Regions from separate parts of the Homo sapiens genome. Here region 2 is linked to region 1. The links come from fine-mapping of genetic effects on gene expression. Tissue or cell type: cerebellum. Region 1 holds a variant in brackets; the other region holds the start of a gene. All regions are shown on one strand. Distances are between the middles of the regions.

Region 1 (5,471 bases):
CTGTGCTCTCACAGGATAACTGAGGCTTTGAAAACCCACAGCCCTGGAGCTGCCCCCCAGCCTCCTGAGATGACCCTGAAATGTGACCAGGCTGCTCCCAGCGTGGAGTTTTGTGCTCAGTGTCTGGCAAAGAAGCGAAAGGCTCCTTTACCCTCACACCCATCCTCTAGTCTGGACAACTGCAAAACTGCCATAAATCGTATCAGTGAATGGTACCCCTAACGGGAGCTGAATGGCAGGCTGTACAGACGGCACGGGGGTGCTGTGGCAGTGAAACCAAAGCAAGAAGTACTGTTGATAAAGTTGAGCAAAGAAGAGGAAATACCCTGTGCTGCTTCCCCTCCTGTCCCTTCCCGTCCCAGCCTCCTCTTTAGAGGAACTTGAGAGTCCGCTACTGTCAAGGAGAGGAAAGAACTGCCACCCCAAAACGAGTTTGGTAATCCTGTGGTTCTTATTCTCCTGCACTAGGTTTCCCCAGCCTCAGCCAGGCAACATCTCCTGTACGCTAGCTAGGGTTACACAAATGCAACTACTCAAAAGCAATTTCTCAACACTCCTCGGCTACCTCCCTGGTATAAGCCACCTTCATCTGTCACCTGAATAACTACTATAGCCTCCCAATGTCTCCCAGCTTCAACCTTCACCTTTGCCCTACTGTCTCTTCTCCCCACAGCTGCCAGAGTGGCCCTTTCAAAATGGGGTCAGATCAAGTGACTCGTCTGCTCAGCACCCACCAGGGGCATCTCATCTCACACCGAGTACCAGTCACAGTTCTTCCAAGCTCCTATTAGCTCTCAGACCTCACCTCCACTAACTCTCCTACTGGCTCACAGTGCTGCAACTATACTGGCTTCCTTACTATTCCACAAACCTGCCAGGCAAACGTCTACCCCAGGACCTTTGCATTCACTCTACCTGTAAATTGTGTACACCCATCTCCCTCAGCTCCTATAGATATCTGCTCGAATGTTCCCTTCTCAGTGAGACCCAATGGCTCCATTTAAAACTGGACCCTGATGCTTCCTCCCTACCTTTCCTACTTTTCCTCATAGCACGTGCCACTTACCAACTCCCAACATACTGTTTTATTACTGTATTTGTTTGTCTCCCCCACTAGAATATAGGTTCAACAAAGGCAGAAGGGTTTTTTTCATGGCAGAAAAGGCAGAATTTTTTCCCCAATGTACATAAAAGTGTCTGGTACATAGTAGGTGCTTAAAAATATTTGTTGCATCCAGTAAAATCATCATTCAAATGCGAAGGAGAAATACTTTCTAAGGTAAACAAAACTTGAGGGAATGTGTTACCAATGGAATCACCTTGCAAGAAATGCCCAAAGAAGTTCTTCAGAGAGAAGGGAAATGATATAGTTCAGAAACTCAGATCTATGTAAAGAAAAGTGCATTAGAGGAGAAATAAATGAAGGCACTAATTTAGGAGCTGTGACTATAGCAAAACAAAAACAGGTTTTACCAAGTACATGGCTTGATTGAAGCCACTAACTTTCCATAATCATGTCCTGCTGATTACCTACTAGATACAGCTACTTTATAGAATAATTAAGACTGCAGGATCAGGCCGGGCGCCGTGGCTCACGCCTGTAATCCCAGCACTTTGGGAGGCTGAGGCGGGTGGATCACGAGGTCAGGAGATTGAGACCATCCTGGCTAACACAGTGAAAACCCGTCTCTACTAAACATACAAAAAATTAGCCAGGCATGGTGGCAGACGCCTGTAGTCCCAGCTACTCGAGAGGCTGAGACAGGAGAATAGCGTGAACCCGGGAGGTGGAGCTTGCAGTGAGCTGAGATTGCGCCATTGCACTCCAGCCTGGGCACAGAGGGAGACTCCGTCTCAAAAAAAAAAAAAAAAAAAAAAAAACCCTCGGGAGCTTTCAGACCCTTTGAATACAAACACTTCCCTGTTGGGGATCAAACATGCAGCTTTAAAAGGCTTGTTCTTCCCCTAGGAGGAATGCACTCAGAATTCAAGAATCTGTGAAAAACATTTTTCTAAAAATGAAAAACAGGCTTGTTGAGGTGGATCACATCTGTAATCCCAGCACTCTGGGAAGCTGAGGTGGGAGGATAGCTTGAGGCCAGGAGTTCAAGACCAGCCTGGGTAACATAACAAGACCCCCATCTGTACAAAAACTTAAAAAATTAGCTGGGTATGATGGCTCATGCCTGTAGTCCCAGCCACGGGAGGCTGAGGTGGGAGGGTCACTTAAGCCCAGGAGTTCGAGGCTGCAGTCAGCTATCATTGCACCACTGCACTCTAGCCTGGGTGACAGAGCAAGACTCTGTCTCTTAAAAAAAAAAAAAAAAAAAAAAACCTTAAAAGATTACTACAAGAAATATTGTTGTTCTACAAAGAAATGAAAAAGCAATTGTTGACCAGGTGTGGTAGCTCACACCTGCACTTTGGGAGGCTGAGGTGGGTGGATCACCTGAGGTCAGGAGTTCGAGACCAGGTTGGCCAGCATGGTGAAACCCCATCTCTAATAAAAATACAAAAATTAGCTAGGTGTGGTGGCAGGTGCCCGTAATTCCAGCTACTTGATTGCTTGAAC[C/G]TGGGCGGTGGAGGTTGCAGTAAGCCAAAATCACACCACTGCACTCCAGCCTGGGCGACAAGAGCGAAATTCCATCTCAAAAAAAAAAAAAAAGCAATTGTTAAATGAACACATGAAGAGGTTTGCTTTACCTCCTGGAAAATAGATGCTGTTGGGCTGAGAACAATAATCCCAATTGTGTTGCACATTGGAATCCCCAAGGGATTTTTCCAAATAAAAATCCCAGGTGTGGTGGCTCACCCGTTTAATCCCAGCACTTTGGGAGGCCGAGGTAGGTGGATCGCCTGAGGTCAGGAGTTCGACACCAGCCTGGCCAACATGGTGAAACCCCGTCTCTACTAAAAATACAAAAATTAGCTGGGCATGGTGGTGGGCGCCTGTAATCCCAGCTACTTGGGAGGTTGAGGAGAACCCAGGAGGCAGAGGTTGCAGTGAGCCAAGATTGCACCATTGCACTCCAGCCTGGGTGACAAGAATGAAACTGTCTCAAAACAAACGAACAAACAAAACTAATGCTTGGCTCCCACCTCTGACATTGTGATTTAGTTATTGAGGGGCATAATTTGGGCATAAGGATTGTTTTAAAAGCTCTCTAGGTGATCCTAATGTGCAGCAAAGTTTGGGAACCAATGGCTAAAAGGTCCTCAGGGTGGCAGCCACAGTGGGGCCCGTAGTAGTGTTTGCACTGCCCTTTACACCTCTCAGGGCCTGGGCATCCTATGCAGCTGGTGGTCCCACTAGGCAGCAAGAGCTTCTCTCGTCATTGTGTATACTCCAGGACCTCAGCACACAGCAGTAGGATAACACACTAAGCCCCCTTTCTGCACCAAAATGCTGACTTCTTATTAGAGAGAAGGGGAGAGAAACAACCTCCAATGCTTTATACTCAGAACCCAGAGACAACCTTGTAAGTCAAACTAAAACTGAAATAGGATATGTGCTTGGCCTAACACTGTGCTGTAGAATTCGTGCATCGTAAAAGAGAACTTAGCTGAGCTGGTGGGACATTTCTCATCCCACCTCACAGCAGAACTGATACAGGTGATGTGGCTGGCATCCCTCCTGAAGCCCAGGACGCAAAGCCAAGGATGCTGAAGAGAGGGAAGTCTTTCGGATGGAGGAGAGCAATTTTTAGAGGGTCCCACAGTCTATTCGTAGCAAATGGGACTCTGAGGTCACCTAATCTGGTCTTGCAGCTGGGATCTTTGAGGACTACTGGGGTGGTGACTTGCCCAGGATCACACAGCCAGCCATTATAAGAGCCAGGCCAGAACTCCAGGCTATGATTCCCTACAATGTGGGGCCTGGAAACATCCATAATTAATTTAGAACAAGGGGCAGATAACGGTACATTAGATTTTTCCAGTGGGAGGAATTAGATAAGGAAGAATGAGCAAATTAGAAAAAGAAAGCCTAGAGAAAAGAATGAAGAACATGAATCTCATGTTAAATAACAAACACATCACACCCGGCCCTCCACCCCAGCTTCCACCTCCAGCCCTGCCAACTGAAAACTGTCATTTCCTGGCAGTGCTTAAAACAAAGACTCTAGATAATTCCCCAGGGACTCACCGGCAAGCTGCTGGTCCCACTTACCCTGCCGCACAGCAGACATCAGCTGTACTCCCTCTTCTGCCCCGTGAAGACCTTTGGCTGCAGTGCCGCCGCTCATTCAAGTGACCGAGATCCTCTCTAAGGCGCCCTCCCCCACACCCCCCGCCCCGCACAGCCCTCTGGACGCCTTGAAGTACGGAGCCGCAGCCTTATCCTAAAGAAAGGCACAGCTCTGACAAGAAAAGGCAATCCGGGAGCCTTTCCCTAGCCGTTTAAAATGAAACTCACCGTTCTTGCTCCCGTGAGCTGTTGCAAATAATCTTGAATCTCGTTAGTGTGGTTGGTGGCTGTGATATCGACAAATTCCAGAAGCCCTTGTTTGATGGGCAATTGACTGAGGATCTCTTGGGCCCTCCTGCAGTACGGGCAGGTGGGCTTGATGAACACAACCACCTTCCCAGGCTGGATTTTGCAGTTCACAAACTCTTGAGCCATGCCGATGGGCTGCGGTCTCCCCGGGAAGAATCCTCAGTTGCAGGTATTGCTTGGGGTATTGAGCCCCGACCCAGCCAGTTGGCTCCTATTTAATAAGGAACCTCCCTGGAGGCGGAGTTTGCCTGGTAGCTTGCTCGAGTTTTAAAGGGACAGCTTCGAAGACATTTCCATCTGGTATACTTCACTAGTTAGCAATGCCCAGGAATGCAATACTTGCTATTTAATCATTGGTAGCTATGAAAGACACTCTGGGTATCTTTGTTGTCCTTGGACATTTGGGGAGTGCCTGCCCATTGGCAATGATCAGAGTTTAGTCACCTCTGGGGAAGCATAAAGTGCTTACTCACAAAGGGGCTGAGGAGGCAGTGACTTCTTAGAGCAAATTCTTGTTTTCCCTCTAGGAGATACAGTTGTATTTTAAAATGCAAACAGAATCACTTAAGAAACAGAACACTTGGAAATCTCTTTAGAAGAAGTGAAATTGAAACTGTGACTTTGCACTCCTCATGAAGGTTGCTCTCACAGCATTTTGCTTGGACTGTATGGTGGGTGTTTGTTGTTGTGATCTTTTTAATGGAATTCATTCTCAGTATTTAAAAATCTGGAGGTCTCACAAAACAATTCGGACTTAAAACTTCTCTCTGAAAAGTCAGGTCGGGCAATACAGAGCTTGCACCTTTTAGTGGAAGCTGCTGGGGCTGACAGCTGTTGCCCCCTTTGTATAGGGCAAGTAGTGGCTTTGGTTTGCCACAGGTCCCAACGACAGGCCCATGCCTGAGACACCGGCTTCACCCCATAACCATTTGAGTTGGTAACCCTTGAACAGCAGTTTAATATGGAGGCAAATTCC
Region 2 (4,000 bases), 140 kb before region 1:
TTCCTCAGTAGAGTCATTCACTCCTCTAAATTACATACAGAGATGTAACACTGACCATATTCTAATGCAATTACTCCTTTACAACTCTATCTCCATTAGATTAAGCTCATTAGCGGAAAGGATCACGTCGTGTTTATCTCTGTATTTCCTCTCTCCAGTCCCAAGCAATAGTGAGGTGTTTACTAAATGTCTGATGGCTGGTTGTCTGCAGGCGTGGTTAAAGTTAGCTCTAATATCCCTCCTTTGGAATGAAATATGTATACTTTGTGATTACTGTGTTAATCAGAGTGCTTTTTGTTAACTGCCAGGTTTTGGTTATATACCTCATGTTTGACATTGTCAAGAGTCTGACTTCTGGATAAGTGGATTGTTCCTGTACCATGTACCTTCACAGCATATTCTATTCCAACTATGATCAAAATGACCGAACCACATTTTTCCATTAAGAGCTGTGTGCCTTTGAGTAAATTAGGTTACATGTGTTCCCTAAACAAGTTGTTACTTTTTCCTGACTTTATGTCTCTTCAAAATATATACCTCCCTCCTCTTTCACTCCCAATATTTTATCTGTTTCAAATCCTTTTTGGAACAGAGGTTTAAAAAATATACATGTATACCTTATTTAAATTGATACTACTGTTTTCTTTCCTTATTAAACACACATCCATGTTGTATTTATCTTTCCATTGTTACAATTTATCTCAAGGTTTTGCACTGATTTGACATAGATTTTTGCTAAAGTGTATCTAGGTATTTTTCTGATTTTACATTGCAATTGTAGTGTTGAGAGACTGCCAGGTGTTTACCCTAATGACATAGTTAATGTCTTTAAACTTAATTCTCAATCTACCTCACTTCTTGGTCCACAATCTCTCTGCTTCCCAAAGACCCCTCTTAATGAGTAATATTTGAAATTTGTTTTTCTGAGGCAAAATTAGTGTTTTCTAAAGTTTTGATCACTGATCTCAAAATCAAGCATTAAATAATGGGTATGATACTAAAAATAGAATATATTTTTTCTATTCCTTTTAAAGGTTATAAAATCACATTACCTGATTAGACTGTGATAATCTTAGGATGGTGGGAAATTCATCTTTAAACTCATCTACAAGGTCCATGATTGCTTTCTGGATCCCCTCGACTAAGACAAAAAGAGGTTAGGAAAAAGAAAACTTTGAAAACATCCCCTAAATGTTTCAAAAGAACATGAAACACTTGATCAAATTCCTAGATGACTCGGAAAGTAAAGGAACTCTAGGGGATCTTATTCCCAATTGTTCCCACACCCATACGCCCTTTACAACAAGATTGTGTATACTTCTTCCAGAAAAGTTCTTCAACACCTGCCCACATATCCACCCAACAGGTTTGATTGGCATGGTGAGTTCTTGCTTGGGTTCCTAGTCCTTAACAAGCTTGCAGGCCTGGGTAATGCTTGTCCTAGTCTGCCATTAGTGAAAGATGAGGGTAGCCTTCCACTTGGGAAAGCCAGCAAGGACAGAACTCACAGCTCACTGCTGGAATTCTTTGTTACTGTACAATAGGCTTCCGAGAACCTGCTACAGAATCTTCTGACATCACTCTGGCAGTGAGAGGAAGAGGAGTGTGTTTGGAGGCATAAGGGAAGGAGTGAGGGGATTGAATAATAAAGTACACTAAGGAGTTCTATGATATAAGTTGAAATTTGTCCCAAATTCTGCAGTGATACCACAAATAATGGATCATCTGAGAACAAAAGGTCCCTTTGAAAAAAAATGGCATGTGCTTTAAAAGAAATGCTTTATATATGATGCCAAATAGAAAAGAAACACCAGCAGTGAATTCAGAAAGACTTCTGAATAGATTGTTTTTGCTTCACCAATGAGGATCACTAGGTCAAACTCGGGCAAAACTGTAAAGTCTTTGGTTTCTCTGCTTTATAATCTCAATCTCTTTTCTTCATCTTTTACCCTCCTAGTACCCTCACATGTCAGATGACCATTAGTTCCCCCGATCAAATATGGGAAGAACTTGATACCATGCAGACTTGATTGACTGCCTAGTTTTATATATATATAGTTTGTTTGTTTGTTTGTTTTTTGAGATGGAGTCTTGCCCTGTTGCCCAGGCTGGAGTGCAGTGGCGCGATCTTGGCTCACTGCAACCTCAGCCTCCCGGGTTCACACCATTCTCCTGTCTCAGCCTCCCGAGTAGCTGGGACTACAGACACCCACCACCACGCCTGGCTAACTTTTTGCATTTTTAGTAGAGACGGGGTTTCACCGTGTTAGCTAGGATGGTCTCCATCTCCTGACCTCATGATCCGCCTGCCTCGGCCTCCCAAAGTGCTGGGATTACAGATGTGAGCCACCACGCCCGGCCGACAGCCTAGTTATATTTTAGTGTGAATGAAATAGTTGGTTAACCTGAATCCCATTCTAATTTGAAGCCCTCATATTTAATTGCAGCTAGACCACTTTCTTCAGCAAGCATAAAGCCACGGCTGCTGAAAGTGTCTTCATGGGAACAGTTTGGGAAAGAGAAATCTTCATCCCAGGATTCCTCTAGCATGGGAAGCCTGAAAATCCCCAGCTCTCATGGTGTTCTTAGTCCACAATCTGCCTTAGAACACCCTCCGCCATACCACATTCACCTCTCCTAACCAAAATAGAACCTGCTTGCCTCTCATGACTCTCATGGTTAAGATAACTATGCCCTTAACATTTGGAAAGTGCAATCCATCGGTACAAAGAAAATCATACTAGACAATGATGAATACACACGCTGGGAGTCTATGAGATAATGAAATACTTTATCTGTCCTAGCAAGATAGTTGGTCATCAGCGTCCACTGCAGATGAACACCTGGCAGATCCTTCTCTTTCTGGTCTTCCTCCCTGTTCTCCATTCTCCTCCCTTCCACCATCCCCTAGTTCTTTTTATCCACTGATTCCAATGTCATTGCCCAACTGGTTTTACCCAATTTTCTTCTCTTTTCATCAGTCCTCTCCCTCCTAGGCATCCTATAAAATTAACAAATCTAGAGGAAAAGCATTTCTCAGGCTAATGTTTACTGCACTTAAAGCATAAGCAACTCTTTGTGTTTGCTAACAACGTCCTTTTTGTCTTTTCTTACTTAAGAGCCCTCTCCCCAGAAGTAGAGTGGTGAAAAATGACAGACGGTGATGGAGTAAGAAAATCTCACCCTGCAGCACTTACATTATGACCTTATAATATTTTGGTTTGTGTTTAATTATCTTCTTATGCCAATAATCTTATGCATCTTATGTTATTTCAGATAATAAACTTAGACAAAAGAACCCACAATGTCTGTTTTTTTCTTGTTAATTCTTCATTATGTTATTCTTTAGAGTTCATAATAGAGTACCCCATAATTATAAAATAAACTAGGAAACAATTAAAAATATCTCCAAATAATTTTTATGACAGCTGTACAGATTTATCTGTACTTAAAAGGCTTTAATACAGAAGAACAGAACTTTTGTTTTGCACACAGCTTTGAAGAAAATGAACATTTTACATAATCACATATAGACAGTATAAACTTAGTGATAGAAATATAGAAATCTGGGGGTCAGTCAGACCTGGGTTTGAGTTTCAATTCTATCACTTACCAGGCTTTGCCGTGGGCAAATTACATAAGTTCTATAAGCCTCTTACCTTTTAAAAAGGAAACAATACTTGATGAACATTAAATACCCAATAAGTGGCAGGTTTCATTAAATATGCACTGACCTTTTGGTTTTGGAAATTTTGCAAAACTTGGGTAAAACTCAATGCTGGGCTTGCCCGATTCACCTGGGCTTCAGCATTTTGATTTGCACCAAACTGGCTAGAACCCTAACAACCTTCCTAATTGGATCCTTCCCTCAAACCTACTTCAAATTCAACAGAGATGAAGTCATACTCCTCACTTCATGTATTACCTACCAATCCTCAAAACCTATCTGCCATGTGAGACTTCTTTAAGAATTGTTGTTGGCCTTAGATCAAGGATTTGG

Direction of the effects. Positions count from the first base shown, and alleles are read on the strand shown. Sizes are in standard deviations (SD) of each study's normalised expression.
As copies of G replace C in region 1, the expression in cerebellum of the gene that starts at base 1,516 in region 2 goes down (moderate effect, 0.44 SD a copy in GTEx).

What was found. PIP is the estimated chance that this variant, and not a neighbour inherited with it, causes the effect.
Region 2: SPATA9 starts here. The variant in region 1 is fine-mapped to the expression of SPATA9 in cerebellum (GTEx, PIP 0.95).

What each region holds. Positions count from the first base shown.
Region 1 is chr5:95,818,042-95,823,512 of GRCh38, forward strand. GLRX (glutaredoxin) reads right to left here and starts at 4,685. Exons shown (of 3, transcript NM_001118890.2): 1 at 4,415-4,685. The coding sequence starts at 4,621. RefSeq lists enhancers at 3,057-3,196, 5,113-5,202, 5,433-5,471. The variant C/G (reference allele first, on the strand shown) is at 2,573.
Region 2 is chr5:95,681,476-95,685,475 of GRCh38, forward strand. SPATA9 (spermatogenesis associated 9) reads right to left here and starts at 1,516. Exons shown (of 5, transcript NM_031952.4): 1 at 1,319-1,516; 2 at 1,053-1,141. The coding sequence starts at 1,379. It overlaps LOC105379090 (a long non-coding RNA gene), which reads left to right. Exons shown (of 2, transcript XR_948588.3): 2 at 3,120-3,298.